7 linked regions of the Homo sapiens genome follow. The protein of the gene in region 6 purifies or fractionates together with the protein of the main gene of each other region. This does not show direct contact. Each region holds a gene or a part of one and is shown on either strand. Other genes may lie near its edges.

The links.
Region 1: the proteins of MAST3 (region 6) and SRGAP2 purify together in Homo sapiens (affinity purification with mass spectrometry, with the first as the bait; one large-scale study listed by BioGRID). This does not show direct contact.
Region 2: the proteins of MAST3 (region 6) and MRPS31 purify together in Homo sapiens (affinity purification with mass spectrometry; one large-scale study listed by BioGRID and IntAct). This does not show direct contact.
Region 3: the proteins of MAST3 (region 6) and LARP1 purify together in Homo sapiens (affinity purification with mass spectrometry, with the first as the bait; one large-scale study listed by BioGRID). This does not show direct contact.
Region 4: the proteins of MAST3 (region 6) and CCNT2 purify together in Homo sapiens (affinity purification with mass spectrometry, with the first as the bait; one large-scale study listed by BioGRID). This does not show direct contact.
Region 5: the proteins of MAST3 (region 6) and DRG1 purify together in Homo sapiens (affinity purification with mass spectrometry; one large-scale study listed by BioGRID and IntAct). This does not show direct contact.
Region 7: the proteins of MAST3 (region 6) and EIF2S1 purify together in Homo sapiens (affinity purification with mass spectrometry; one large-scale study listed by BioGRID and IntAct). This does not show direct contact.

What each region holds. Positions count from the first base shown.
Region 1 is NC_000001.11:206,201,833-206,206,859, forward strand, and holds the start of SRGAP2 (SLIT-ROBO Rho GTPase-activating protein 2), read left to right. Parts: upstream 1-1,708; 5' UTR 1,709-1,818; intron 1,819-2,011; coding exon of another isoform or gene 2,012-2,163; exon of another isoform or gene 2,164-2,275; intron 2,276-2,419; exon of another isoform or gene 2,420-2,881; intron 2,882-3,596; 5' UTR 3,597-4,138; coding exon 4,139-4,205; intron 4,206-5,027. Other genes in the region: protein FAM72A, read right to left, coding at 42-193. UniProt on the Homo sapiens protein: Postsynaptic RAC1 GTPase activating protein (GAP) that plays a key role in neuronal morphogenesis and migration mainly during development of the cerebral cortex. Regulates excitatory and inhibitory synapse maturation and density in cortical pyramidal neurons.
Region 2 is NC_000013.11:40,760,795-40,765,021, forward strand, and holds part of MRPS31 (small ribosomal subunit protein mS31), read right to left. Parts: intron 1-4,227.
Region 3 is NC_000005.10:154,758,003-154,762,229, reverse strand, and holds part of LARP1 (la-related protein 1), read right to left. Parts: intron 1-4,227. UniProt on the Homo sapiens protein: RNA-binding protein that regulates the translation of specific target mRNA species downstream of the mTORC1 complex, in function of growth signals and nutrient availability.
Region 4 is NC_000002.12:134,949,506-134,953,732, reverse strand, and holds part of CCNT2 (cyclin-T2), read right to left. Parts: intron 1,093-4,227; coding exon 1,022-1,092; intron 504-1,021; coding exon 1-503. UniProt on the Homo sapiens protein: Regulatory subunit of the cyclin-dependent kinase pair (CDK9/cyclin T) complex, also called positive transcription elongation factor B (P-TEFB), which is proposed to facilitate the transition from abortive to production elongation by phosphorylating the CTD (carboxy-terminal domain) of the large subunit of RNA polymerase II (RNAP II).
Region 5 is NC_000022.11:31,419,906-31,424,132, forward strand, and holds part of DRG1 (developmentally-regulated GTP-binding protein 1), read left to right. Parts: intron 1-350; coding exon 351-520; intron 521-3,374; coding exon 3,375-3,505; intron 3,506-4,227. UniProt on the Homo sapiens protein: Catalyzes the conversion of GTP to GDP through hydrolysis of the gamma-phosphate bond in GTP. Appears to have an intrinsic GTPase activity that is stimulated by ZC3H15/DFRP1 binding likely by increasing the affinity for the potassium ions.
Region 6 is NC_000019.10:18,121,267-18,125,493, forward strand, and holds part of MAST3 (microtubule-associated serine/threonine-protein kinase 3), read left to right. Parts: intron 1-418; coding exon 419-507; intron 508-583; coding exon of another isoform or gene 584-586; coding exon 587-656; intron 657-840; coding exon of another isoform or gene 841-861; intron 862-1,406; coding exon 1,407-1,485; intron 1,486-1,950; coding exon 1,951-2,108; intron 2,109-2,313; coding exon 2,314-2,389; intron 2,390-2,672; coding exon 2,673-2,882; intron 2,883-2,998; coding exon 2,999-3,100; intron 3,101-3,375; coding exon 3,376-3,508; intron 3,509-4,227.
Region 7 is NC_000014.9:67,370,190-67,374,416, forward strand, and holds part of EIF2S1 (eukaryotic translation initiation factor 2 subunit 1), read left to right. Parts: intron 1-4,227. UniProt on the Homo sapiens protein: Member of the eIF2 complex that functions in the early steps of protein synthesis by forming a ternary complex with GTP and initiator tRNA. This complex binds to a 40S ribosomal subunit, followed by mRNA binding to form a 43S pre-initiation complex (43S PIC).

The sequences.
Region 1 (5,027 bases), on a different chromosome or scaffold from region 6:
TTAGTTAAAAGCTACCGTTGCCCGCCACTAGCATGACTTACTTGGTAGGAGGGATGTCTGTAGAGAAAAGGTCTATTTCAGTATCAGCCAGCAAAACAGCCTTCATTCCCCTAGAGCTGAGCACTTGTTTACAGAATTTGCAACACAGGATGGACACGCACCTGTCCTTGAAACTACAAATGTTGGTAGACATGGCGTCGCAGGAAGGATGAGGTGTGGGATTTTGAAAAAGGAAACAAGAGTAATGCTCCTACTATTTTGATTCCCCTAGGCTAAAATTCAAATTGCGGGACCTAGAGCTTTTCTAAGTCCTAATATTGGGAAGGAAATTAGTTTTTTTTTCTGTTTTCCCGGTGGCGGAGTAGAAGAAGTATTTATTGAGTAGGAACAGGGGAGCGTGGCAAACTTGGCTTTCCTTTTAACTTTTGGAGAAGGGAGTGGAGTTTGAATTGGAGAGGAGGCAGGTGGAGTTTGAAGGGAACTTCTCAACGGCTTTCCCTTTCTGCTGTCTAAAGGAGTCCTCTACACTTCAGCTCCCGCCCCTTCATAGCAATTCCCTCAGCCTTCTCCGATCGTCTAATTTAAAGCTTCTCCTCTTTTAAGACATCCCTTCCCCAGCATTAAGCCCCTCCCCCGGAGCGCTCCGGTTCCCTGCTGTCGGATCTCGGGCTAAGCGTCCCTACCCACGCCTCCTCTTCCCAGGATTCAGAAACTCCCTTCTCTTTTTCTGCCAGGCGATCCCGGATTCTCCTCCGTCCCGCCCCTTTTCTCCCGGACCTTCCTCCGCTCTGCGGGTCCGCGGGCCCCTCTCCTGGCAACCCCCGGCCCTCAGCGTGCTCGCGCTGTTTCTCTCGCGTCCTCCCTTCCCTCAGCTGTCCCTCGTGCCCCCCGCAGTCCCCTCAGGTTTCTTCCCGGAGCGGCTGTTCCCGGGCGCGCGGTGGTGTTGGTGGGGCAGAGCTGAAGTCGCTTTAGAGGCTCAGTCGGCGCTGGGGTCTGTCACCGAACACGTTGGTTTTCGCTCCCTCTTCCGCTTTTCCTGCCTCTCCAACCCGGTATCAGTTTGAATTGCCAGCGCCGCGCACCGATTGGAAGAACTAGAGTTAGCCCCAGTCCCTCATTGGAAGGCTCCGGGGCCTCCCCTCACGAGAGCTTAGTGGCTTGAAGACCGTAGGCACCGCCCCAGTAACGGTGCTGAGATCAATTCGGCTTTCTGGTTGGCTGAGCTTGGCTCCGCCTCCGATCTCATTGGCCGGCTTCGGGAGGTTTCGGCAAACCCTGCCTTCGCCCTAGTGAAAGTGGCAAGGCACGCCCTTCCCGCTTCTTATTGGAAGAGGTTCTACAGTCTCCACCGGTCTCTACTCTTTATTGGTTAAAACTCCCCGCAACACCCCTCCTCTCTACCCCGGCCCAATTGGCCGTGCCTTAGCTCAAGAGTTTGTGTTTGGTCGTCGGTTCCACCTTAATCCCGCCCATCAGTTCTACTTAGGGGTTCAACAACCCGGGGTGGAGCTTAATCTGTGACCACGCCTCGGCAGTGCTAGTCACACCTCCAAGTTTTGCCAGCTCCTCCCCCTCATTCCGGGCCTCTCGGGATCAGCTCTTCCTATTGGCTATGGGCCCCATCGGTCGATAGAAAACGGGCGGTGATTGGTAAAGGGGTGGGCTCTACTTCCCGGCGGGGTCCTGCGGAGTTGGCGGAGGCTCCTCCAGGGACTGGGGCACCGATCTGCGTAGAAACGGGTGGCGGGGAAGAGAGGGGAGGAGAGCTCTGAGTGGGAAGCGGAGCCGGGGGCCTGGGACCCGTCGCGTCAGAGCCAGGTAAAGGCTCCTTCCCTCTTCCTTTTCTTCCTCCCGGCCGCCGGGCTGGAGCCCTGACTGAACAAACCGGGGCTGGGGCGGGAAGGAGAGGGCGCGGATGCTGCTCGCGGCATCGCCTTAGCGGTGCCGCCCGGAATCCCTCAGACCGCCCCCCCTCCACCCTCTCCAAATCTCCCAGTACAGCCCATAATACTTCTCAGGACTGCGAGTCTCTCCGCCCATCACTGTACAGCCTGGGACTCCGTCCTGGCTCACGGACCGCAGCGCAGCCGGCACCCAGCCGCCTCTCCCTTTCCTCCGCACACGGGCAGCCGCGGTCCACCGTAGGGCAGTCGTCGTTGGCATCGCGCGTAATCATCGGCCGGCCTCCTCCAGTGTCTCCCAGCCCTGGCGGACAGCCCGGGTCCCAGCCTAGGACCCAGGAGGATGGGTGTTCCGCGCAGCTTCCGGGGCTCTCCCCGAGTCCCACCCCCCGGCCCGCCCCGATGGACTTCTCTTCGCCCACTCCCATCCCTAGACCACATCTCGGCCCCCACAGTTCCTGACATCCTTGCGCTTCACGCAACATCGCGGCCCATGATCATGCCCCAATTCCCCTCACCTCTAAGGCAGCCTTCTCCTTGCCGCCTCCCGCCTTCCGAGCGTGTGCAACTCCAATTGTCCCCGGGCTCCCTTCCAGCCTCAGGACCCCATCTCACACCCGCCTCTCGCTTCCCGCTTCCCGCTCGCCTGAACCCCGCCGCCTCTGCTCCCTGTCTTGTTCCCTCAGCGTGGCCCCTTCCTCCAGCCGCGGGAAGTGGGAGACGCTAGCGGGAGCTTCCTCCTCCCGGCGCTCGGAGGAAAAGGAAAGACCAAGTAGAAAGGGTCGCCGCTGCGGCACGCGAGGGAGCTAGTCGCCGGGCTCCGCGCTCCCGCTTGCGTCCCTCCAGCCCCCTGGGCCTCGTCCGGGGCCGGATCTTCTCGGGCACCGCCTGGTGCGAGGAGTCAGGACTGCGACCTCACCGACCTCCTCCCATCCCCAGCCTGGGATTGGGTGGGATATCTGGGATCTCTGAGCTTGGGTGTCAAAAAAATATTGGGGGTGGCATTTATAGTCACTATCGTCCCTAGCTTGAGGGAGGCGACGGCTGCCTTCCGCTCGCCGCCCCCCGGTTTTCCCGGCTCCGACCCTATCCTCTAACCCGTTTCCTGCTTCAGCTGACCACATTGTTTTCCTGGATGTGTCCCGTGCCGAGCAGGCTTTTTCCTGCAGATTTGCCCCCCCCCCCATCAACATTTTGCTGCCAAGAGAAGCTAGTAACCAAAAACAAAACAACTGGGAGGAGGGGCGGGAGAGGAAGAAAAGTTGTGCCCTGGTGGCTTATCCCTCCCCGGCTTTGATCCCCTTTGATGTACAGGGAGGTGCCCCGGCCGGGGGTCTGGGGCCACGTCGGGGGCTAGGTCGGGAGGGCTCCCTCGGGCTGGCCGCTGCCCAGCGCTGGCGGGGCTCAGGAGGCCGCCGAGGTGCCGCAGTCCCCGCCTGGTGCCCCGCGTTCCTGCAGTCCCCGCCCGGAGCCCGCGCAGGCGGCTGCTCCAAAGTGTTTTCTTTCAGCCTTAAAATCCGGAGGGAGCTTCCTTCCTCCCCACCTCGTAGCGCCAGGCTCTGCGGGCGGGGAGACGTTAAGCGGACAGGAATGGGCCCAGGGCGGGCTCGGAACGACGTCCCCTACCCCACCCCCGCCGCGATTAGGATCTGCGCTCTGGCTGATCGCCCCCTCCCCCTTTTCCTGCATTTACAGGCAAGTGAACCGGAGCAAACGACTTCCGATCCAGTCTGCGCTGTTGCGGCTCCCGTTTGGGATTTGATTTGCAGCATCTTTGAGCCTCTACGACAAAAAACCGCGAAGCACGCCCAGCCCTCCCCCGGCACCCCGAAAAGCACCCACTCCCTCCCGGGGACACAGCTGGGCGCGTCCACACCCCCGCAGCCCCACACCATGTTGTGCGGAAGGACTTCCACTCCCCGCCTGTGTCGTTGATGTCAGACCCCAGGCCAGCCTCCGGGCGCTGCAGTTCTCCCGGCTAATGCTGAGGCTGCGGCTCCGGCTCTAGCACAGGCACCAGCCGCCGCCGCACCCGGCCCCAGCGCCCACCGTCTGCATGTGCCCGCCGTAGCCGTCTGCCCAGCCCGCAGCCCGCGCTCCACGGAGCGCTGGAGACCACCGTGGGGGGCCCCTTCTGCCCTCGAGAGAAGCGGTCTTGGAGGTATTGATTTAGGTGGTTGGATTTTTTCCGTGGATCTATCAATTCACAATTCGAATTTGGAAGAAAGAAGGAAAACATGACGTCTCCAGCCAAATTCAAAAAGGATAAGGAGATCATAGCAGAGTACGATACTCAGGTCAAAGGTAAGGGCTTTGAAAAATAGCACACTGCAAATGCTCTGTGGACTGGTGAGGCGTGTATTTCCACCGTGATTTGCAGGTTGTTCATTTCTTTGGGTGGAGCAGATGGGGGCAGGCTGACCCCAGAGGTGGTTTCATAGATGGGTCTGAACCTCCAAAGGATGGGCAATGCCAGGGGGCCATTGACACTGGAAAGGAATTTTTGCAGTGGGCTGTAGGAGTATCTTTGTGGGGCTGACCATGATTTTGGCAGCCCTTTCCCCCCCAAGCCGGACAGGGTGGGGGGAGGGGCAGGAGGCTCTTAGAGAAAGGCAGTTTGCCTCCGGTTCTCTGGGTCAGGTTTCCTTGAAAGACAACTGAAATCTGACAGGTGTTTGGACATTTGTTTCAGAGATTGAAGAGGAGTCCAGACAGAAAGGCAACCTTGGGAAGGTGTACCATTTGGAGAGCCTTGGGAGAGGCGGGGTTTTTCGGATGCACTATATTAAAACATGAGATTTGCAATGGCATTGGCACCAAAAGTCCATTGCCACCTTGGGTGTACCTTGTACCTGCCTGGTCTCTGGTCGGCCTGCATACAATCAGAGATCAGAGAATAAGGCCACCCACGCCCGGTCTCCGCCCTCACCTAAATCTGAATAGAGTTGGGAGGATGTTAGGGTAGCCGGTTGGTGCTGATTCTGGAAAATGGGAAGACATAATTGTTTAACCCTTCTGTGCTGTGGCCCTCTGCTCCGGAAGACATGCTTTTAAAGCCCCATTTCCCTCTCCTGAAAAATGTGAAGGGTAAAGCAAAATGTGGACTAGGAGAAACCAAGTGACCTG
Region 2 (4,227 bases), on a different chromosome or scaffold from region 6:
AACTGACATCTCAATGAGTGGGATCCAAATTAATGTTTTACTATACCTGGCTTTCTATATTATGATACGTTACCTAATACGAAAGTTAAACTTCCCAAATTCCTGAAGTTCTTGGAGAAAGATTTTAAGGACTTAACTAAGTTATGAAAGATCTAAAATCTGATAGGAATAGAAGAAAAAGAGAAGAATTAAACAAGGGGTCGGGCACGGTGGCTCATTCCTGTATAATTCCAGCACTTTGGGAGGCTGAGGCGGGAGGATCGCTTGAGCCCAGGAGTTTGAGACCAGCCTGGGATAGAGAAAAAAAGAAAAGAAAAAAAAAAATTAGCCAGGTGTGGTGGCATGTGCCTATAGTCCCAGCTACTGGTGAGGCTGAGTGGGAGGATCACTTGAGCACAGGAGGTAGAGGCTGCAGTGAGCCATGATTTTTCCACTGCACTACAGCCTGAGGCACAGAGTGAGAGTCTGTCTCCAAAAAAAAAAAGAAAAGAAAAATAGAGAAATATAAGTTAAAATAAAATGTGCTTTTAAAACTTATCTGTGAATAAAGCTTTAACCTTGTTCCAAAGTCATTGTATTTCTTTCATAAACTACTTGTGAACTTCATTTTCAAATTTTAATATATTTGATCAAAGTATACACAGAACATAGATGAATATTCATTTTCTAGAATCATACATTTCATAACAATGGTTTCCTATGTAGTTATACTCTCTGGCTTTATAATTTGAAATGTTCTAATTAATAAAAAATTGTGGGGGAGCCTCTGTCATTGAATAATTTTTACATACAGGGATCTTTCTTCATATATTTTAACAATGTAAGGAGAACTTGTTAAAGTATCTTTTAACAATCTATTCTATCCTGTAATTAAAACCATTTCATTAATACAAACTTTTCCCCTTCATAACATTCTGTACTTTTTAAATTTCTTTAAAATAAACTGTATGACATACAATTTCAGAAAAGAATTCTGATGAGGGAAAGAAACTGAGTGGATACTTAAATTGGCACCGCTTTTGGCAGGCAACTTGGTGCCATATATCAAAGGCAAAAAATATATATATGCACATCTCTTGACCTAGCAATTCCACTTCTAAGAATATGTGTTTAAAGAAAATAAACAGAAAAAAAAAAAAAAGAAAGAAAGAAAGAAAAAATAAACAGCTGGGCATGGTGGCTCACGCCTGTTATCCCAGCACTTTGGGAGGCCAAGGTGGGCAGATTACTTGAGTCCAGGAGTTCATGACCAGCCTGGACAACATAGTGAAACATCGTCTCTACAAAAAGAAAAAAAAAAAACTAGCCAGATGTGATGGTGCATGTCTGTAGTCCTAGCTACTCGGGAGGCTGCGGTGGGAGGATTGCTTGAGCCCAGAGGTAGAGGCGATTGTGCCACTGCACTCAAGCCTGGGGAATAGAGCAAGACTCTGTATCAAAAAATGAAAGAAAAGAAACAAATTTGTGGAATTTGAAGGATACTGCATACTCCAACCTCAAGGCCTAAGCAGTTCTATCCTCTATGCCTGAAAAGGAATTCATCTTTCAGATATCTACATGGCTTTATCCCTAATTTGATTCTAATCTTTGCTCAAATGTTACCTTATCAGAGTTCTTCCCTAATTATTCTTAAAAATAGCACCTCTCCAGCCCCCTCATTCTTTTTTTTTTTTTTCCCACCCAGGCTGGAGTACAGTGACACAACCACAGCTCACTGCAGCCTCAACCTCCTCAGCTCAAGTAATCCTCCTGCCTCAGCTTCCTGAGTAGCTGGGACTACAGGTGCATGCCATCACACCCAGCTATTTTTTTTTCATTTTTTGTAGAGACTGGGTCTCACTATGTTGGCAGGGCTGGTCTTAAACTCCTAGACTCAAGCAATCCTCCTGCCTCAGCCTCCCAAAGTGCTGGGATTACAGGCTGTGCCTGGCCCAACTCCATCACTCTTATTTTTCTTCATGTTTCACCACCTGACATAGTATAGACATTGTGTGTGTGTGTGTGTGTGTGTGTGTGTGTGTGTGTGTGTGTGTGTGTGTGTGTGTGTTGTACATATATCTCCTCTCCTACATCCCTCCCCCCATTTTAATGTAGGAAGCAGAGACTTTGTTTTGTTCAATGTCCAATCTCTAGCACTTTGGATGGTGTGTGAAATATAATGGCAAGGGAAAGTTGCTGAATGAATAAACAAACATAGCATCATTTCATACTAGTGAAACACCAGAGATAATCTAAATTTCCAGCAGGGATCAATTAAGTGAGTAATAGTTAGCTGATGCCTTCCAAATGAATCAGGTTAAGAGGAAGTTAAAGCAGATGCTAGAAATTTTGGTTACTGCTGCATCACCAGGGATATTCTTAGGTTCCACTAAACATTCAGACCCAAAGGACCACTACAGGTGACACCTGGCCCAGTCCATTCGGGAAGATGAAAGACAGAACCACAGCAGGCTGGCAGGGCAGCCTTGGGTCTCCTTCTCAGTGGGAGTTATTGTAGTGTTCATGCAGGTGACACTTCACACAGTCAATCATCTTAGAGTAAGGATATGAGATCTGCAAGCTGCCTGGCTTACTGCCCCACAGCAGCCAGTATCTCTTGTAACAGGGCCACATGCAGTTTCCAGGGTCCCTGCAAAAGACGTGCAGTAAGAAGAATCACTGCATTTAAGTCCTAAATATGGTATCCCCATCAGGTACCCGTAGTTCTCCCAGGCCAGATGCAATCTATGAATTAGGGGTCAATTTTGTCATGACAATGTTGCCTATAGTATAGCTGAAATTCTACAGTTATCAGGTACCAGATGTACCTGATAAGCAGATTATACTTTCAGAAAATAGTGACAGCATTACTTCTGGTTCCACATGCTCTTCCAACACATTGCCATATATCCATCAAAAGGGAGATCTATCTTCCCTCCCTGAAAACCAGGGGAAACTTTGTGACTGCCTTGATGAACAGAACAAGATAGAGGTAACACACTGCAACTTCTGAGGCTAGATCAAATAATGTGATACAGCTTTCACTTCCATCTCTCAAGACATTTGTCTGCGGAACCCAGCTACCAGGCAAGAAACCCAGGCCACATGGAAAGGCCATGGGTAAGTGTACTGGCCAAGAGCCCTAGCTAAAGCCTCAGCCAACAGCCAGTATCAACTACTGGAAAAGGGCCCTCAGACGATTCCAGATCCCAGCCCGGAATCTAGCTTAGCTAAAGATGAGTAGAGAAGACACAAGCTCTCCACCTGGGACCCTGGCTCCCAAACTGTGTCCTAAGGTACTCTGGGGCAGCACAGGAAAATACAACCATGTCAATAATGATGTAAATTAGGCAGTTCACAGTAACATTACAGCAGTCCCTTCATATCTGCAGGGGTTGGGGGGAGGTGGGGCCGTGGGATACAGGCATTGTTTCCAGGAACAGCTCTGGCCCCCACCAGGATGGATGCACAAGCCCCTTACATAAAATGGCAGAGTACCTGCATATAAGTAATGCACATCCTCCGAATACTTTTAAATTATCTCTAGATTACTTATAATACCTAATTATGTAAGTAGTTATATTGTATTTTTTTTTAATATTTTCAATCAGAAATTGGTTGAATCTGTGGATACAGAACCTGCACATACAGAGGACCAACTGTATATTGCTCCATTCCTATCAATGACATTATATCTTTGTCAAGATTGTTTCTCAGGAGTGGTTGTGATAAAAACAAATATCCCAGGAAAATCAATGTGGAACAAGGGTAAACACGGTAATGTCCAATCTTATTACAAGGCTAGGTCATTAAAAAGAAAATACAACTTTCTCTTGGCTCACTTTCTCTTGAGACACCCGCCCTGGAACCCAGCCACCATGCAGGGATAAAGCCCAGCCCACAAAGAAAGCCACATGTAGGTGTTTCTGCTAATAAGGTCTCAGCTGACAGCCAGCAGCAACTGCCAGACCTATGAGTGAGCAAACTTCAGACAATTCCAGCCTCAGACTTCTAAGTCTTCCAACTGAGGCCCCAGACATCACAGAGCACAGATTGGCCTTCCCCCACTGTGTTCTAGTCAAATCGCTAACCCACAGAATCTGTGAGCATAATGAATGAATGTTTTATGCCACTAAGTTTGGGAGGTAGTGTAGCCATGGTAACCATATCAATGAAGGTTCAATATTTAATACAAACAAAGAAAAGCAGTCTATGTATGAAGCAATGATGACAGTGTCTCATGAAGCA
Region 3 (4,227 bases), on a different chromosome or scaffold from region 6:
CTCTTGTCACCCAGGCTGGAGTGCAGTGGCACGATCTCAGCTCACTGCAACCTCCGCCTCCCCGGTTCGAGCAATTCTCCTGCCTCAGCCTCCTGAGTAGCTGGGACTACAGGCACACGCCACCATGCCTGGCTAATTTTTTTGTATTTTTAGTAGAGACGAGGTTTCACTATGCTGGCCAGATTGGTCTTAAAACTCCTGACCTCATGATCCGCCCGCCTCGGCCTTCCAAAGTGCTAGGATTACAGGTGTGAACCCCCGCGCCCAGCAGGACTTTTTCAATTCATGAACTGTACTGCCCCATACTCAACAGCAATTTGACGCTCTAAACAACCTCAGCACCGGGATTAGCCCCATTCTGTGAATAAGGAAAACAGGTTAGACAAACAATCTAAGGTCACAAAGTGAGAGCAGAGAGAAGTACCCTGCCCATGTTCTAATTTAAATCCCATCACCTTCTCCCTTCACATTGATGTGCTGTTTCCCATGTTTTCACCAGCGAGGTACCAAAACTTACTTCCTTTCTTGAATCCCAGGCAAGGTAAGGCCATCCTCTCTCCTGGCCACTCCCTTAGATCACTCTGGACCAGCCAGGGAGGTTTTTGAGTCTGGACTGAGGCACCTGCTGAACCTCCAGTGGCCCCAACACCCTAATTACTCCCTTTGAGCTGTCTTGGGTTTTGCAAACAGGGGAACTCCCATCTGCCAAGCTCTCCATCTTAAAGAGGTTTTGTAGTTTCAGGCCGGCTGCTCCTCCTCCTCCTCCCACCCTGCCCACCTCCCAGAAAAGAGAATGGGTGCTCAGTAACAGCTATTAAGATTGCTTACTCCAGTTCAGGTCCCACTATAGACAGTGGGTGGGTCAGCAGAAAGACCCCGACCCTCAGGAGGTTCAGAGTTCAAGAAAGCTTGTGACTACCCTCTACCTCCCAAAGGGCCAAAAACCACTTCCTAAAAACCTTCCCCTACCTGGCAGGCACTCACTTCCGGGTTAGTATGAAACTCAAACTACCTGTGCAAAAGGAAAGGGGCCAGGCCAGCTGAAGGCTCCCGATGAAAGCTGCCTCCCACTCTCCCCTTCAAAGGGTGTCCTAATTGTGACCTTTCCTTAGAAGAAGAGAAAGTGATTCACACTATATTGCTTCTTGGCCTTTTGGCTAAGATCAAGTGCACAATAGGAAAAAGCCTTAAGTCTTATGTAATAGACTAACCTAACAGTTCTTAGGTGGGGGTGCACAATATATCCAGTTACACAGTTAAAAACAATCATAATACCATTATCACCCCTGACAAAATAAGATAATTTCTTAACTTAGTCAATTTCCTCAGTTGTCATCAAAATGTCTTTGGACATTTGGTCAAGAATCAAGATCCAAACAAGATCCACAACAATGCACGACTGATGTCTCAACTTTCTTCATCTGTAACAGTTCTTCCCTTTAAAAAATGCCATTTATTTATTGGAAATAGTGTGTCTTGTAGAATTTCTCACATTTAGAAACTGAATAACTGCCTACCTCATGGCTAATTAGTCTGTTCCTGTAGCCCCATTTCCCTATAAACTGGCAGTTGGATCTATGGTTCTGTTAGATTTAGGTTCAGTTTTTATTTGGTGGAGGAAATTTTCAGGCAGTGCTGTGTGCTTTCAGACACTGTAAGGCACATAATGTCTGGCTGCTCCATTATACACCCCCAAGCCATCGACTTAGGCTCCTGAAGCCAGAAGAGTTTCTCCAGCCTCCAGAGAGCTTGGATTCCTAATCACAACGCAAATACAAAGCTACACATATATAAAGCTCTACTTTGGTTTCTTTCTTTTGTGGGGAGGGAGTTTTAGAAAAAAATTTTTGATACTAGAAAAATTTTAAGACATTTAGACCTAGTCTAATACCCTGATTTTACAGACGAAGAAACAGGCACAGAGAAAGCAAAGCGTTTGCCGGTGTCCACATTGCTGGTCATGAGCAGGATCAGAAGTAGCTCCTAGGGCCGGGCGCGGTGGCTCACGCCTGTAATCCCAACCCAAAACTTTGGGAGGCCAAGGCAGGTGGATCACCTGAGGTCGGGAGTTTGAGACCAGCCTGACCAACATGGAGAAACCCCGTTCTACTAAAAATACAAAATTAGCCGGGCATGGTGGCACATGCCTGTAATCCCAGCTACTCTCAAGGCTGAGGCAGGAGAATCGCTTGAACCCGGGAGGTGGAGGTTGCAGTGGGCCGAGATCACACCACTGCACTCCAATCTGGGCGACAGAGCCAGACTGTCTCCAAAAAAACAAACAAACAAACAAACAAACAAACAAACAAACTTAGCCCAGCCTATCTTAAATGCACTCAGAACACTTATATTAGCCTACGGATGGCCATAGCATCTAACATAAAGCCTATTTTAAGCGTTTAATGTCTCATGTAATTAATTTATTGAATACTGTACTGAAAGTGAAAAACCATGGTTGTATGGGTACCTGAAGTACAGTTTCCAATAAATGTGTATCACTTTCCCAACAACATAAAGTCAAAAAATCATAAATTGAACCATCATAAGTTGGGGACTATCTGTACTCTCAAGTCTCACGGCACTACATGTGCACCAGCCACAGCAAACTTTCAGTCCAGTTAGGCTGGCTTTTCCTCATATCCCTGAGAGCACACGTGCAACTCCCCCCAAAGAAAATCTTTACAAAAGGCAAACTAAAAAGTTAAAACTTATTTTTTTAAAATTCATCTCACCACATTCCAAAGCAAAAAATAGCTAATTCTTAAGAGTCAGCAACCTTTAAATTATCCATCCATGCCCTTCATGTCTGTGGATAAGCAAAAGTCAAGTTTTAAGGAGACAGATCCCATACATTTCACGGAGTACTTATATAACACAAGAAAAGGAAAGATCTGCATTCACCAACCCCATCATATTACAGGTAGAGAAAACCAGAGACCCAGGGAAAAGTCCCACCAAGACCCAGAGTAAGTAACAATGTCTACCTGCCAGGCACTGGGCTAAATACACTTATCATAACAATGAATGCTGGTAATACCCCCATGAGGCAGGTGAATCATAAATACCTATTACACAAATTAAGAAGGTGAGGCATAGAATGGTTAAATAACTTGCCCAAGGAAGCACAGCTAACAAGTGGTACAGTGGCATTTGAACCCACTCAGTTTGACCCCAGAATATTCGCTATGTATCATCTCTTAACTTAGACGTCTTGGATCTTATACTTAAAAGGGGTATGGCTAGGATAAGACAAAAATTTTAAACATTTAAAAATACTCTGGGGAGGGAGGGAGATCTAAAAAACCAAAATGCAAATCCCAAGACTTAAAACTACAAATGTAAGACTTGGACGCTTAAACCAGAATACAGAACCCCACAAGAAAGTAGAGATATCACGAAACATATTTTATTACTAGTTACTGCATGTGTCCCTTAAAGAACTAAAACACCAACATTTGAGCCAAAAGTAAGGCTAAAAATAGGCATTTACAGCAAGCTTTGGAAAGCTTTTAGTTTGCTTATGAGGTACTCATTTCTGTAGACTCCCAAAAACATGTGCATCACAGAACACAAAAATTCCCAAGACCACACAGCCACTCCACTAGTGTCACGTTTAAATTTGTCGAAGCTGTAAATAAAACCAGGGCTGGAAAAGCACTTCAGAGATCCACGTAGGCTCCAGAGAAAGGGTCATCATCTAGCCTTACCAGACTGACAACCCAATCATAGAATTCTCTCTCAAAATGCACACAAACCCTAACAACAGGCTTAGAGAGAGAAGCTACTGGATTAACTTGAGTTAGGCTGTCAAAACCTATTCCAAAGGTTCTAAACCAACAAGTAGACACTCTCTTGCCTTAAGATTCCAAAAAACAATAACAGAGCAAATCTACCCTTACTCAGAATTTTGCTTTGGGCACTTAAAGCAAGTCAGCTTCTCCACTCAGAGGAAAAGGTGAGATGCCAGCCAAGCTGTCTTCTTCCCACGATCAATAACCCCAGTGACGCACACTATCAAGGGCTCCTGGACTTACACAAAATGCCAGCTCAGGCACCCAATACCACCTGATGTCACGGTTGATTTAAAACCCACAAGGTAGGTTCACCATTAGCCAAGCCAGGATGAGTAGCCCCATTTAAAAGGAGTGCTCTCTCCCGGGGATGATTATACCCTTTTGAGTTTAAAGAGGGGAGAAGGACCAAAGAGTGTTTTAAAGTTGTTTTCCT
Region 4 (4,227 bases), on a different chromosome or scaffold from region 6:
GTAGTGGAAATTGGCCCATGGTGTTTACTGCTCCCTGCTTTATGAGTATATTCTTGCTTAACAGAAGAATGATCTGAAATTTTGTCAGGTCTGTGATGTAATCCTGAATGCAGTGATATAGAAGGTCCCTGCTGGAAGTTGATGTTGTACTGGCTACCAGACAAAGATGTCTCCTGTTTCTGTGAATATAGCTGTTCTGTCCTTGCTGAGTCTTGATGTTGAGGCCATTCCTGGTGTGATGATAAACCGTATGAAGTACTTGGCATTCCTGTTGCTAGCATTGACAAATTATCAGATGTATGGCTGTCTTGAACAGAAATATTTCCTGAATTTAGAGGTACTGGCGCAGGGAATGCTGATGTAGATGGTTTCTGAAAACTTGGGTTTGTAGGCACACCAGTGACACTATCTACTAAAATGGAATTCTGGACCAAAGATGAACCAAGAAGTGGTGTCTCTGATACCTGTCCATCTACTTTTGGTTTCCTAGCTGCCTGATTAGCCTATTAAAATAAAACACAGAAGAAGCAGTGATATAGCAAAATAATTTAATGCAAATTTCTTGTCTTATAAAAGTTATATATTAAAAACATTATATATTAAACATATGGAAATAAAATGACCTGGGGTTCAAGATTTTATGTTGTCAGTAAATAAATGCCTTAGAGGCATAAAAGGCTATAAAAAATTGAAAACACCCATTTTAGAATCAGATACAAGTTAAATCCTAGCCCAGCACTTCAGAAAGTAATTTAACTTGTCTAGGCTTCAGTTTCCCCATTTGTAAAATGAAGAGGATACTTTTGTCATAATCACTGCAAAAAATTTTTTAAAAGTATAATGTACTTTAGCAAAGTCCACTGGACTCAGTAGTTGAATATGTGAGTATATGTAACTTGAGATACGTTGAATTATTCAGGAATACTGCAAAGATTATTTAACCACAAAAATTCAAACTGGTTAGCTATGTAAATGTTACATAAAAGACTGAAATTCTGTTAAACCCTGTCAATTCTCTTACCCTCCAGTTTCGAATCTTCTTCAACCTATTAGGCGTTTTCTCCAATATTTGTAGAAACTCATGTGTTAGCTCTAAAAATAAAATTTAAATTTGAAACTTAGAAGGTGCCTTTAGGATTTAAATTTCTCTTAAGTGGGCAGTATTAAAAAGGAATGCTAGGAGTTCATCTACTTCACTTTTACCCTCCTATTAAATCCTCAGCATACACAGAAGTACACACAACTCTCAACCGGCATTTTCAAAGCTGAATCCTTTTGTAACGATTACTTTCCCTCTTGATTTTACTTGCTTAATTAGAATCTCTAGAAAATCTAGTAGCATTAAAAATAATCACCCCCCCAATAAAAAAAAAATCTTCATTAGGCAAACACCACAATAATTTTTGTCACAGACAAGATCTATCAAAAGATTCTTTAAAATTAGTGGACAAAAGTTTGAGGAAAAACGTTATTTGTATAATCCCAACGTATCTTCCCCATGAAATGTATTAATTACAAAGAGAAAAAAAATAGTGACTTTAAAGTGCAGAAACCACTTTAAGGATACCACTGTAACCAAGTGATCACGGTTGTCATGACCAGTTATAAGACGTATCAACATACTGTACCCCTTGATATGATGCACCAAGCAAGACCCAATTTACTTCTATGGTATTCTTGCTCAAAATGGATAACTTCGACATAATAATGAGAAATCATCAGACAAACCCCAACTAAGGAACACTGTATAAAATGACCATTATTCTCCTAAGTGTCAGTGTTATGAAAGACAAGGAAAGATTGGAGAACTGTCACAGACTGGAGAAGACTTGAAGGGACATGTCAACTAAATGGAACATGGGATCCTAGAATAGGGAAAAATATGGAATACTGAATAACATCTGTGGTTTAGTTAACAGTATTGTACCAATGTTAACTTCCTAGTTTTGATAATCATATATTGTTATGTAAGATGTTAGTACCAGGAGAAGCTAAAGGGTATACAGGGAACTATGCAATATTTTGCATTTCTTTCTTTCTTTTTTTTGTTAAATAACAGAGACAGGGTCTCGCTATGTTGACCAGGCTGGTCTCAAACTCCTGGCCTCAAGTGATCCTCCTATCTTGGCCTCCCAAAGTGCTGGAATTACAGGTGTGAGCCACCACACCCAGACTTTTTTTTTAAAGGGGAAAATTCCTCCAAATATACTTCCTAGCTATCAACACTATTAATATATTAGCAAACTATCTTCATTGTAAATTTCTACCAACTTTCTTAAAATTCTGATTACAATCAAATGACCCACTTTTCCAAAGTAGTGTGGTTTTGATGAACTAATAATGTCATTAATAGTTACTAGCCACTCTCAAATATTCATCAGTCAAATACATCAGAATATTATATAATATTAATAATGCCAATTCCACCTCAATACTGGGGGAACCTCTATTAATAGAGACTACAGGTTCATTTTGTAATAGCAAGCTTTTTTGTAAACTATTCTAAGCCAATGTTAAGATCGACACTTCAGACAAGCTATAATTTAACCATTAATCTTTCAAGATGTAATTTCCTTGACAATGTCATGACTAGTCCCTGCTAAAGTCTCATGAGCTTTTTCATCCAGTTTGGATGAAAAAAACCCTAATGCCCAGACCTTTACTTCCTCATTTGAAAAAAAAAGAAAAAAAAAAAGACTATTTTTCTACTTTTGGGTCCAACATTAACAAAACTGTTTTGACTCAATTTCTGTTAACAACTTGGTTGTAAAACATTAAATACACTTCAAGTTCTGGTCCAAAATCTCGTACACAAAATGTAAGCTTTGTTTTTCTTAAGTATCCTACTGTATTAAATTTTATAGCAGAACAACAAAAGAATCTGTTAAATAATCCATTAACATAATTAATTAGCTATATGCACAAAAATCACAGTATGTGCCTAAAATAGAGGCCCTTCTCTCTCAAAGCTACTGTCTAAGCCAATGTTCTTTTCTGGAACACAATCATTAAGTGAATTATTTCAGTAAGTAATAAGAATAGTAGTATCACTTCACTCTACAATTCAGATAAATCTTCATGTCTTTTTTTTTCCCCCCAGACAGGGTTTCCTCTGTTGCCCAGGCTGGAGAGCAGTAGCATTATCACAGCTCACTACAACCTTGACGTCTCAGGCTCAGGTGATCCTCCCACCTTAGCCTCCACAGTAGTTGGGTCTATAGGAGTGCGCCACCATGCCCGGTTTGTGTGTATTTTTAGTAGAAACGTGGTTTTGCCATGTTGCTCAGGCTGGGCTCAAACTCCTGTGCTCAAGATATGTGAGTGACTGCACCCGGCCACACCTTCATGTCTTTAATTTTGAATTGCCTTTTTGTGACTGACACAGAAAAAAAAGCTGCTGCAAAACATGGTGAAAGTCTTAACATATCAGTTCTCCAAGATTCCTATTCAATTGCTCTCCAAATTAACAAACTTTACTTTTCAGAATGGAAATGAGGTAGCTCCTCCTGTGTCAAAAAACCCCACATAAACCACAACCTAACCTCTGACCTAAAGACAGGATAAAAGGCAGATTACTTTTCTGTGATCTTTTTACTTCAGCACCAGGTATATAAACTATTTTTATTACGATTATGCCTACTGGCTGGGTGTGGTGGTTCACGCCTGTAATCCTAACACTTTGAGGCCAAGGTGGGTGGATCATGAGGTCAGGAGTTCAAGACCAGCCTGGCCAACATGGTGAAAACCCTATCTCTACTAAAAATACAAAAATTAGCCAGGCGTGGTGGCAGGCACCTGTAATCCCAGCTACTCAGGAGGCTGAGGCAGAGAACTGCTTGAACCCGGGAGGCGGAGGGTGCAGCGAGCCGAGATTGCGCCACCGCACTCTATAGCCTGGGCGACTGAGACTCTGTCCCCCACCCCCCCCCCGAAAAAAAAATTTTGCCTACCTAATCTTAATCTAGTGACTATTAAACTAAAACAATGACCTAGATAACCTGATTTTTCAAGCTATAGAACAGATAAGCCCTCACTGAGTTTTAGATGTCATTTCAACTCATTGAAGACTTCCTTTCCTCTGGATAAACTCTGAAAAAGCCTCTAACAATTTAAGAAAAACATTATAATCATGCAGCAATAATACAGCATGAGATATATATTCTGGGATAATTTTTTCCAGGTGGAAAACAAAATAGAAAAGGATGAAACAAAGAAGCATATTTCACA
Region 5 (4,227 bases), on a different chromosome or scaffold from region 6:
GGTGGCATGTGCCTGTAGTCCCAGCTACTGGGGTGGCTGAGGGAGGAGAATCGCTTGAACCCGGGAGGCAGAGGTTGCAGTAAGCCAAGATTGTGCCACTGCACTCCAGCCTGGGCAACAGAAAATGTGTCAACTCTTGGGCAAATAGGTGCTGATTTCATGGCATACAAAGCAAATTGACTTCTGGTATAAATCTTCTGTAGCTATAAGAACTTCACGTATGCATGTATGTATTACAGAAAAATCCTTTGACACTTAAATGTAGGGGGAAAAAACACCTCTACTTGAGTATTTGGGTTAGTTAAGGCTTTATTGAACTTTCTTGCGTATGTTTTTTTCTTACTCTTCAGTGGCCCGAACCTGTAACTTGATCTTGATTGTTCTGGATGTCCTGAAACCTTTGGGACATAAGAAGATAATTGAAAATGAGCTGGAAGGCTTTGGCATTCGCTTGAACAGCAAACCCCCCAACATTGGCTTTAAGAAGAAGGACAAGGGAGGCATTAATCTCACAGCCACTGTAAGTGGGGAATATGACATGGGGCAGGCTGCTGCAGGAATTGGAATGGGGAGTGGATTGGGGTGCATGGACCCTGACATTGGAAAATTTCCTGGCTTTTCCCTGCACTAATTGAGATAACACAATGACTTTATAATGACTGACAAGAAAAACTTCAAGATTAGGATAGGAGCCAGTCTCAGACTTACCTTTGCTACTTATTTCCTCTTTTGGATTATCTATTGGGAATGATATGGGCGTGTGGACCAATATTATGCTTGCATAAAGTAGATGGCCGCCAATATCTTCTGTTTTCATTCATTTAACACAAATTTATAGAGTGCCTACCACGGGCCAAGCATTATTTTAGGCTCTGGGCAGGAATGGAAGAGGGAATAGTGAAACCCCCTGCTTTTATATTCTAATTGGATAGAATAGAAAACAATGTTAATGAGTAAAATATAATGTATTCGTCAATGATAAATATAAGAACACAAAGTAGGGAAAGGAGATAAGAGTGTTGGTGTGAGGGTTGCAGTTTTAAGAACGTTGGTCAGGGAAGTCTTTACTGAGGTGACATGAAGGTGTGAACCAAGTGGATATCTTGAAGAAGAGCATTTGCTTCATGCCTCAACCTCCTGAGTAGCTGGGATTACAGGTGCCTGCCATCGCACCCAGCTAACTTTTGTATTTTTAGTAGAGACGGGGTTTCACCATGTTGGCCAGGCTGGTCGGTTTCATTCTGTTGCTTAGGCTGGAGTACAGTGGCACAATCATAGTTCACTGTTAGCTCAAAACTCTTGGGCTCAAGTGACCCTCCTGCCTCAGCCTTCTAAGTAGCTAGGGCTAAGTCACATGCCTCCAGGCTTGGCTAATTTTTTTTTTTTTTTTTTTTTTTGGTAGAAACGGAGATTTGCCATGTTGCCCAGGCTGGTCTTGAACTTTTGGCCTCAAGCTGTCTCCTGCTTCGGTCTCCCAAAGTGTTGGGATTACAGGTATGAGCCACCATACCCAGCCATGTTTTTTATTTCCTGAGCTAAAAAAAAAATGAACTCTTATTACTAAAATGGTAGGACTTTTGGTAGAATAGATTTGGAGGGAAGGAGAAGATCAGGATGTTAAATTTTAGATGCCAGTGAGACATCCAGGTATTTCAGTCAAGAGGGCATGTGGGGTAGGCTGGGCATGGTGGCTCATGCCTGTACATCTATAATCCCAGCACTTTGGGAGGTTGAGGCAGGAGGATCACTTGAGCCCAGGAGTTCAAGACCAGCTTGGGCAACAAAGTGAGACCCCATCTCTATAAAAATAATAAAGAAGGCATGAGGAATTATCTAGGCTGGATATATAAATTTGGTGATTATCAACTTTAATGTCATGGGCCTAACTGAGATCACCAAGGATGTGAGTATAGATAGAAAAGAAAAGAGAGCTGGGTGCAGTGGCTCACACCTGTAATCCCAGTACTTTGGGAGTCCGAGGTGGGCGGATCACAAGGTCAAGAGATGGAGACCATCCTGGCCAACATGGTGAAACCCTGTATCTACTAAAAACACAAAAATTAGCCGGGCATGGTGGCACGCACTTGTAATCTCAGCTACTCGGGAGGCTGAGGCAGGAGAATCGAACCCAAGAGGTGGAGGTTGCAGTGAGCCGAGATGACGCCACTGCACTCCAGCCTGGTGACAGAGCGGGACTCCGTCTCAAAAAAAAAAAGAAAGAAAGAAAGAAAAGAAAAGAGAATCGGCCAGGCACGGTGGCTTACGCCTGTAATCCCAACACTTTGGGAGGCCGAAGTGGGCAGATTACATGAGGTCAGGAGTTGGAGGCCAGCCTGACCAACATGGCAAAACCCTGTCTGTACTAAAAATACAAAAATTAGCCAGGCGTGGTGGCACGTGCCTGTGATCCTGGTACTTCGGAGGCTGAGGCAGGAGAATTGCTTGAACCCAGGAGGCGGAGGTTGCAGTGAGCTGAGATCGCGCCACTGCACTCCAGCCTGGGCAACAAGAGCAAAACTCCGTCTCAAAAGAAAAAAAAGAAAGAAAAGAGACTCAGAGAAATAAGACTTCTTAGACCAAGAGAGAGAAGGAAAACTGAAAGAGTTTGAAATACTGGAAGCCAAGTAAAGTGTTTCACATAGGAGTGACCAATTCTGTCAAATGCTGCTTCTCTGTCAGAATTGAGGACTGAGAGTTTCCTACTAAATTTAACACTTCAGAGCCCAGATGATTTGACTGGCATAGGTTTCAGCTGTCCTGCCCAAAACATCTTTCCCATTATCCCGTCTTAATATTCAAATTTGAACATTTAAGATTATTTCTGTGTTAGTTTCAGTGCTGCCATAATACGGTACCACAGATGGGTGGCTTAAATAACAGAAATTTATTTTTCATAATTCTAGAGGCTAGAAGTCTGAGATGAAGTTGATGGCAGGGTTGATTTCTTCTGAGGCTTCTGTCCTTGGCTTACAGATGGGACTTCATATGGTGTTTGCTCTGTGTGTCTGTGTCCTAATCTCCTTTTCTTATTAGGACCACCAGTATTGGATTATGGCCCCACCCTAATGACCTTATTCTAATTTGATTACCGCTTTAAAGACCCTATCTCCAAATACATCACATTCTGAGATACTGAGGTTAAGACTTCATGTGAATTATTTGGTGGGGGAAGGAGGAACACAGTTCAGCGTGTAACACCTTCCTTGGAGTTTGGACATTTATTTCCTACTAAAAGTCAGTGACACTCATCCCGGATGTATTTAGTAATGAGTTTGCATCTTAGCTAGAATTTTCCAGGTACATGGATATTGGTACACTTGACAAGTATTTTTTTTAAATTTTGTGCTGACTAGTCATCTGCTATTCCCTTTCAGTGCCCCCAGAGTGAGCTGGATGCTGAAACTGTGAAGAGCATTCTGGCTGAATACAAGATTCATAATGCCGATGTGACTCTACGTAGTGATGCTACAGCTGATGACCTCATTGATGTGGTGGAAGGAAACAGGTACTGACTGAGTGTGCAGTCTGTGCCTGACTGAATTGGAAGCCTTGTGATGGAAACAGTATTGGATCTTGAATCTGGCAGAAGTTTATCTTAATTCCAGTTGTCCTACTGTCTTTTTTTTTTTTTTTTTTTTTGAGATGGAGTCTCACTCTGTTGCCCAGGCTAGAGTGCAGTGGCGTGATCTCAGCTCACTGCAAGCTCCACCTCCCAGGTTCAAGAGATTCTTCTGCCTCAGCCTCCCGAGTAGCTAGGATTACAGGTGCGCACCACCACGCCCAGCTAATTTTTGTATTTTTAGTAGAGATGGGGTTTCATCATGTTGGCCAGGCTGGTCTTGAACTCCTGACCTCAAGTGATCCGTCTGCCTCGGCCTCCCAAAATGTTGGGATTACAGGCATGAGCCACTGTGTCCAGCCTGTGCTACTATCTTAAATGATAGTGGGCTTTGGTTTCTTTTTTTTTTTTTTTTTTGAGATAGAGTTTCGCTCTTGTTAGCCAGGCTGGAGTGCAGTGGCGCAGTCTCGGCTCACTGCAACCTCCACTTCCAGGTTCAAGCGATTCTCCTCCCTCAGCCTTCCTGAGTAGCTGGGATTACAGGCCTGTGCCGCCACGCCTGGCTAATTTTGTATTTTTAATAGAGATGGGGTTTCTCCGTGTTGGTCAGGCTGGTTTCGAACTCCTGACCTCAGGTGATCCACCCCACCTCGGTCTCCCAAAGTGCT
Region 6 (4,227 bases):
TTGCCTCAGCCTTCTGAGTAGCTGGGACTACAGGCGTGCACCACCACACCCAGCTAATTTTTAAATTTTGTATAGAGACGGGGTCTTGCTATGTTGCCCAGGCTGGTCTTGAACTCCTGGCTTCAGAGGATCCTCCCACCTTGGCCTTCCAAAGCACTGGGGTTACTGGCGTGAGCCACCATGCCTGGCCAGCAGTAGTGTCAATAATAAGGAATGTTAGTTGAGGGGTGATTCCCTCCTGGGCCTTGAAGACCTGGCTAAGGGCCATGGGGGAACCCAGCTGGGGGCAGAGTGGGAGTGGCCATGTCCAACATCCCATCCTTCTCCAGAACGGGCTGCGAGTGTGATTTAGGCTGGGCAGGTGGCTTAGCGCGGGGCCCTGGGCAGCCACCTACCCTGTCCCCTTTTCCCCCCACAGCTGCCGCAGCGGGAACCGCAAGAGCTTGGTGGTAGGAACGCCCTCCCCGACCCTCTCCCGGCCCCTGTCGCCATTGTCGGTCCCAACGGGTGAGTGTGGGAGCAGCCAGCGGGTGCTGTGTCCTGCCTCTGCCCCGCTGACTCAGTTTCCCCGCCTCCTCCTCAGCAGGCAGCAGCCCCTTGGATAGTCCTCGGAATTTCTCGGCTGCCTCTGCCCTAAATTTCCCCTTTGCCCGGAGGTGAGTGATTGCCGGCTTTGGGAGACAGTGCGGGCACCACGGGCAAGGGTTGGGCAGGGGCACGTGCTCGGTGGCTAGACCTGGCTCCTCATTCATTTCATTCACCTTTTCCCCTCCCCTGGCCCGTCTGGTGGTGGTCTCCCCCTCTGGCTCCCATTCCCGGCAAATGCATGCCATCTTGCAGCCACATCCCACGCATGGACAGGTAATTTCAACCAGCCCAGGGGGTGGGGGGTCATGGGGGGATATAGCCCTAAGAATCATTAACTCACTAAAGAAATCATTCATTCATTCACTTAACAAGAGCTGATTGAGCACCTGTCATGTGCCAGACGCTTGCATTTCATTTATTTATTCATACAACAACATTCATTAAGCACCCACTGTGTGTATGCTCTGTGCTGCGGGCTGAGGGCATGGTCGCAAATGGGCAGCTGGCCCTGAGCCCCTGGGGAGTCCTCCGTTTGGTGGGGGGTGGTCAATGTGTGCCCCAGAAGCTACAGCTCAGAGGTTGAAGCTTTGACAGGGGACACAGTGGCAGCTGGACTCACGGGGGGGCTTCCTGGAAGAGGTACCTAAAGAGAGAGAGCATGCAGTGGACTTGGTCAGCCTGTGTCTCTGTTCTTGGTTATTTTCAGGAGATCCTTCCTACAACAGGGCCAGAATATGCTGGCCACAGTGTCTGTTCTTAGTCCCCACAAACCACAGGGGCCAGGCCTTCCTTCCATCTGTTCTTGTTCCCCTCTCCAGGGCAGACGGCAGAAGATGGTCCCTCGCGTCTCTCCCATCTTCCGGCTATGGAACCAACACACCCAGCTCCACCCTCTCGGTACCCATAGCCCCACCTTGGCAGGTGGACAGGCAGATGCCGGGTTGTGGGGGGACACATCTTTGTGTGTTTTTTTCAAGGTGTTGGATAGTTGTGCAGTCAGCAAACATACTAGTTACTTCCTCCATGCACGCCCCATTCTGGGAAATGCAGGGTCCCCTGAGAAGACCCAGCCTTGGCCCCAAAATAGTCCCTGGTTGGGGAGATACAGATATCCTCAGCCTATGGGGTCAGGGCCTGACCAGAGGGGGACTTGGGGCTGCCCAGGGGTACAGGCAGAGAGGACTTCCTGGAGGAGAGGGCATCAGAGCTAGGGTTTTGAGGGATGCATAGGAGCTAGGCAGGAGAAAGGATGTTACCTTCTGATGGCCAGCAGGCAGCCTGGGCCTTGAGGGGTGGTGCTGGGTTCCTGGCCACAGCACTGACGGTGAACTCATGGCTCTGATCCCCACCACTCTCTACCAGTCAAGCTCATCCTCCCGGGAACGTCTCCACCAGCTTCCCTTCCAGCCGACGCCGGACGAGCTGCACTTCCTGTCCAAGCACTTCCGCAGCTCAGAGAATGTGCTTGATGAGGAAGGCGGCCGGTCACCCCGCCTCCGACCCCGCTCTCGCAGTCTCAGGTGGGCCGCGACCTCTGGCCCCAGCCCCGGCCCCTCCCTGGGCTGGTGTGGAGGCCCAAGTTGTGGCTCCTCCTTCACCCCAGCCCTGACCCTGCCTGAGCCTAGCCTCTGATTCTTGTCCCTCAACCCTGGCTCAGATCCCCCAACATCCTCCCCTGGGGTTGGTCTCAGGTCCCATATCACAAGCCAGCTGTCTTCCTTTCAGCCCGGGCCGTGCAACGGGGACCTTCGACAATGAGATTGTCATGATGAATCACGTGTACCGGGAGAGGTTCCCCAAGGTGGGCAGCGCCTGGCGGCTGGACCAGCCCCTGCACTTCTTTCCACATTGCTGTCCCTCCATGGAACTCTGTCTTCCTGGCTATGTCCCCTTTGCCAGTCTGTTCATTTCTGTCTTTCCTTCCCCTTCCGTTGAAAGATGTCGTTCCTCCTGCACCAGCCCTCCCACCCGATCGCCCCATTGCCCCATCTCCTCTCTCCCCAACCATGCCTCTCCTGCCCCATTCTGCGTGTGTCACTCCAGCCCCGCCCTCTGACCAGGTCGCCCCGTCTCGCCCCACCCAGGCCACAGCACAGATGGAGGGCCGTCTGCAGGAGTTCCTGACGGCCTACGCGCCCGGCGCCCGGCTGGCGCTGGCTGATGGCGTCTTGGGCTTCATCCACCACCAGATCGTCGAGCTGGCCCGAGACTGCTTGGCCAAGTCTGGCGAGAACCTCGTCACCTCCCGCTACTTCCTAGAGATGCAGGAGAAGCTGGAGCGGCTTCTGCAGGATGTGCGTGGTTTTTCGCATGTTGAGGTTTTGCATGCAGTGGGACGTGGAGTGAGGGGGGTCCCCAGGCCAGACGGTGCTGAGGACCTGTGGGTGATGCCACGACCCACCTCCCCCAGGCCCATGAGCGTTCGGACAGTGAGGAGGTCAGCTTCATCGTCCAGCTTGTCCGGAAACTGCTGATCATCATCTCACGGCCAGCTCGGCTGCTGGAGTGTCTGGTAAGTTTCTCTTTCTACGGCCAGCTTGGGGTCCAGGCAGAACTGAGATTGGGACCACAACAGTCCTGCCAAGATACAGGTGACAGTTCCCATCGTGTAGGGCTTTGAGAGGAACACAGGGTGCTATTGGGCTAGCGTGGGCTTCCCTAAGGAGGCAGCGGGAGTGGAGACCCAGTGGGTGAGCTGGGAAGGGTGCTCCAGGCAGAGGGAACAGCATGTGCAGAGGCCTGCAGGTGGAACCAAGCCCTGGGTGACCAGCCCTCCTGTGCCCCTAGGAGTTTGACCCTGAGGAATTTTACCACCTGCTGGAGGCGGCTGAGGGCCATGCGCGGGAGGGCCAAGGCATTAAGACTGACCTTCCACAGTACATCATTGGGCAGCTGGGCCTGGCCAAGGACCCCCTGGAGGGTAAGCCGGGATGGGAAGAGGAAACCAAGGCTGGGAAAGGCCGGATGGAGGCCAGGCACGGTGGCTCACACCTTTAATACCAGCACTTTGGGAAGCTAAGGCGGGCAGATCACTTGAGGCCAGGAGTTCGAGACCAGCCTGGCCAACATGGTGGAAACCCCCCCCCTACTAAAAATACAAAAATTAGCTAAGTGTGGTGGCGCATGCCTGTAATCCCAGCTACTCAGGAGGCTGAGGCACAAGAATTGCTTGAACTCAGGAGATGGAGGTTGCAGTGAGCTGAGATCGCGCCACTGCACTCCAACCTGGGCGACAGAGCGAGACCCTGTCTCAAAAAAACAAAAAAAGAAAGGGCAGATGAAGCCAGGATTCAAACCCAGGCCCATCCGATTCCAGAACCACCGCACTGTTCTTTGTCTCTCTGTGGCCTTGCTCTTAGGTCACCTGTGGGAATTATGCTGAGACCCTCTGATCTTTTGGGGCCCAGGGGCCTCAGTGTCCTCAAATGCCACGTTAAGATGGTCAGGAAGCCTGGGGACCAGTGTTAGCAGTGGCCTTCCCTTTGTCCTGCAAATTCACAAATGACTTTACCAATTTCTGTGGCCTTTACTGTGGCCCAGAAAGTGAACTTGGAGTCAAACAGGACAACCCGTAGGTAAGAAGACGGTCAAAAACTCCCACAGCCGGCCGGGTGCGGTGGCTCACGCCTGTAATCCCAG
Region 7 (4,227 bases), on a different chromosome or scaffold from region 6:
TTGCCCTCATTCCTGTAAACCCACAACCTTCCAGCTTGGGCGTTAGGACCATTATGGACATGTCGCAGTGCTGCAGAGATTTTGTTTATGGCCAGTCTTGGGGCCAGTTTATGGCTAGATTTTAGGGGGCTTTCTCCCAACACAAAGTAAGTAGAAGAAAAGAAATAATAAGGATAAGATAATCGGTGAAAATAGAGTACCAGAAAATCAGAGAACAGTATCAAAGTTAAAAACTTGTTTTTTGTTTTTTTAAAAAAGAGCAAAATTGATAAACCCCTAGTTAGGCTGATGAAGAAAAGGAAATAACACAAATTACCAATCTGGAATGAGAATGGGGCTATCACTGCAGATGCTACAGACATTAAAAGGCTAATAAGGGAATATCATTACCAATTTTATGCCAATCATCTCAACAAATCAGGTGAAATTAGTGAATTCCTTGCAAAATTTTACTTACTGAAACTGACCAATATAAAATAGAAATTTTGAGTGTCCTATATGTTAGAGAAATTGAATTTATTGTAAAAAATCTTTTCATCAAGAAAATTCGGTCCTGACCAGCACAGTGGTTCATGTCTGTAATTCCAGCACTTTGGGAGGTTGAGGTGGGCAGATTGCTTGAGCCCAGGAGTTCAAGACCAGCCTGGAAACATGACGAAACCTCATCTCTACAGAAAGTAGAAAAATTACCCAGGCATGGTGTTGTGCACCTCTAGTCAGTTCCAGCTACTAGAGAAGCTGAGGTTGGAGGATTGCTTGAGGCCAGGAGAACAAGTCTGCAGTAAGCCGAGGTCATGCCACTACACTCCAGCCTGGGTGACTAAGACCCTGTCTCAAAAAAAAGGAAAACTCTAGGCCAGATGGTTAAATTGATGAGTTGTATCAGACATTTAAGGCAGAAATAAGATGAGTCATAATAAAATTTCAGAAAGTTAAGGAGGTAGGCCAGGCACGGTGGCTCACACTTATAATTCCAGCAATTTCGGATGCTGAGACAGGAGGATCGCTTGAGGTCAGGATTTCAAGACCAGCCTGGCAATATAGGGAGACCCCATCTCTATAAAAATTTTAAAAAATTAGCTGGGTGTGGTGGTGTGTACCTGTAAAGTAGTTCCAGCTACTTGGGAGGCTGAGGTGGGAGGACGGCTTGAGCCCAGGAGTTTGAGGCTGTAGTGAGCTGTGATCACACTGCTGTATTACAGCCTGAGCAACAGAGCAAGACTGTCTCCCACCAAAAAAAAAAAAGTTAAGGAGGCGGGAACACTTTCGAAATACAGTCATGTGGTGCTTAATGACAAAGATACATTCTGAAAAATGTCTTATCATGCAAATTTCATAGAGTGTGCTGCTTACATAGACCTTATAGCCTATACACACATAGGTTGTTTAGTATACTCTATTATTCCTAGGCTACAAACCTGTACAGCATGTTACTATACTGATTAGGTAGTTGTAACACAATGGTAAATATTTGTGTACCTAAACACAGAAAAGATACAGTAAAAATACAGTATTATAATCTTAACAGCACTGCTGCTATATATGCAATCTATTGTTTACTGAAATGTTATGCAGTGCATGACTAATTTTATGAGGCCATCATAACCCTGATAAGAAAACCCAACAAAGACATGTTTTTGTAAAAAAGCAAATTACTGACCAAATATGTGATTAGCATAGATAAAACAATTAATATGTTTTTCAAATCCAACAATGTATAAAAAGGATAATAAAGCATGACCAAGTGGAGTGTATGGAATGCCAGTTTGGTTTAACAGTCATAACTTTATGTTGGCTGGGCATGGTGGCTGAGGCCTGTAATCTCAGCACTTTGGGAGGCCTAGGTGGGGGGATCACTTGAGCCCAGGAGTTCGAGACCAGCCTGGGCAACATAGCAGGACCTCACCTCTTTTGTTATCTCTCACTTCTTTTTATTTAAAAAAAAAATTAAAAAATTTATGTGTGCTTTTATATGATCAGTTAATTAACAAAAGTACAAAGGCAGCTGATCAAAGAAAAAATTATCTTTTTAACAAATGGTGCTGGGACAACTGGATGTCCATATGCAAAAAAGAACCTCAATTCAAACACCTCACCTTATACAAAAGTTAGCTTAAAATGAATCATAGATGTAAACTTCTAAGTACCTCTAGAAGAAAACAGGAATCTTTCTGACCTTGGATTAGGCAAAGATTTCTTAGATAGCACACTAAAAGCGTTATCCATGAAAGGAAAAATTGATTAATTGGACCTTATCAAAATTAAGAACTTATGTTCTTTAAAGACACTATAAAGAGAATAAAAAGACAAACCAGCATATTTTAAAAACTCTTGAACAACCTAAAAAATCCTGTATCTAGGCTGGGAGCGGTGGCTCACGCCTGTTATCCCAGCACTTTGGGAGGCCAAGGTGGGCAGATCATGAGGTCAGGAGATTGAGACTATCCTGGCCAACATGGTGAAACCCCGTCTCTACTAAAATATAAAAAATTAGCGGGCATAGTGGTGCGTGCCTGTAGTCCCAGCTACTCAAGAGGCTGAGGCAGGAGAATCACTTGAACCCAGGAGGCAGAGGTTGCAGTGAGCGGAGATTGCCCCACTGCACTCCAGCCTGGCGACAGAGCAAGACTCCATCTCAAAAAAAAAAACAAAAAACAAACAAAAAAACCCTGTATCTAAACCATCAATTTTTAAAGGAGCGAAAGTTTTGAATAGACACTTTGCCAGAGAAGATAATTGGATAGCAAATATGCACATGAAAAGATGTTGAACATCATTAGTCATTAGGAAAATGCAAATAAAAACCACAGTGAGATGCCACTGCACAATCAATAGATTGACTTTTTAAAAATCAATTGAGAGACATGGAGCAGTTCTAACTGCTCCACATTGCTCATGGGAATGCAGAGTGCCACATTCACTTTGGGAAAGTTTGGCAGATAAAATTAACATGTACTTAATATATAACCCAGCTGTGCCATTTCTAGGAAAATTTATGTTCACAGAGAAACTTGTGTCCAGTTTTTAGTGGCTTCAGGGGTGATGGAACTTGATTTTGGTGGTGGTTAAATGACTGTTCTTTTTTTTAAACACAAAGAACTTAACACTAAAAGTGGTGAATTTTACTATATGTAAGTCATACAATTTTTAATGAAAAAGAATGCTCAGAATCTGAAATAAAATCAGTGTATATGAACAGAATATAGGAGGAAAACTACAACCAATTTAATAGATGTGAAAGGGCATTTGACAAAATTTGTCACCCATTCATAATAAGTCAGCAAACAAGAACTAAAAGGGAATTTCCTAATCTGATAAAGAGTGTCTAGAAAAACACCACAGACATGCTGTCCTCCAGTATTGAGAACAAGACATTCACTCTCACCACTGTTACTCAGCATTGTACTGGAAGTCATTGCCAGGCACAGGTTTGTAGGTTTCAGCCATTTTTGGCTATTTGACGTTGACAAGTTACTTAACCTTTCATGGGTTTTAGTTTCTTCAGGTTAAAAAGACTGGGGGGCGCTGTGGGAAAGAGAGTGATAATCTACCATGCAGGATTGTTGTGAGGGTTCAAGAAGATGTTTAAGCACCTAACATAGTTACTTGTATATGGTAGTCATACAGTAGATTAGATAGTTTTAATTTGTTCAGTGTGTGTGTGTGTGTGTGTGTGTGTGTGTGTCTTCTGTGACGATAGCCTCTTTCCTTAAACTAAATGAACATCTTAGTGAATTTTCCTATTCTGGAGAAGGAAAAGGAAGAAATAGGGGAAAGATAGGCATTTGACTACCTTTCATTTGGATAATTGAAAATTATTAGTTCTCTCCAGTAAGGTAATGGAATATATATAATTACCTGATAATAAAAATTTATTTCTGAAAACAATTCAGAATCTCTCATCTTGTACAGATTGAGTATCCCTTATCCCCAAATCCAAAATGCTCCAAAATCTGAAACTTTTGAGCACCAACATGACACTCAAAGGAAATGTTCATTGGAGCATTTCAGATTTTGGATTTTCAGATTCGGGATGCTCTAACTAGTAAATACATTGCAAATATTCCAAAATCTGAAATCCAAAACACTTTTGGTCCCAAGCATTTCTGATGAGGGATACTCAGCCTTGTAATACTTATGCAGTATTTTGTTGATAGGATTTTAGTAGGAAATAATTATAAGTATGCCAATCAAACACTTAATTTGGTCTTCAAAGCTGGTTACAAT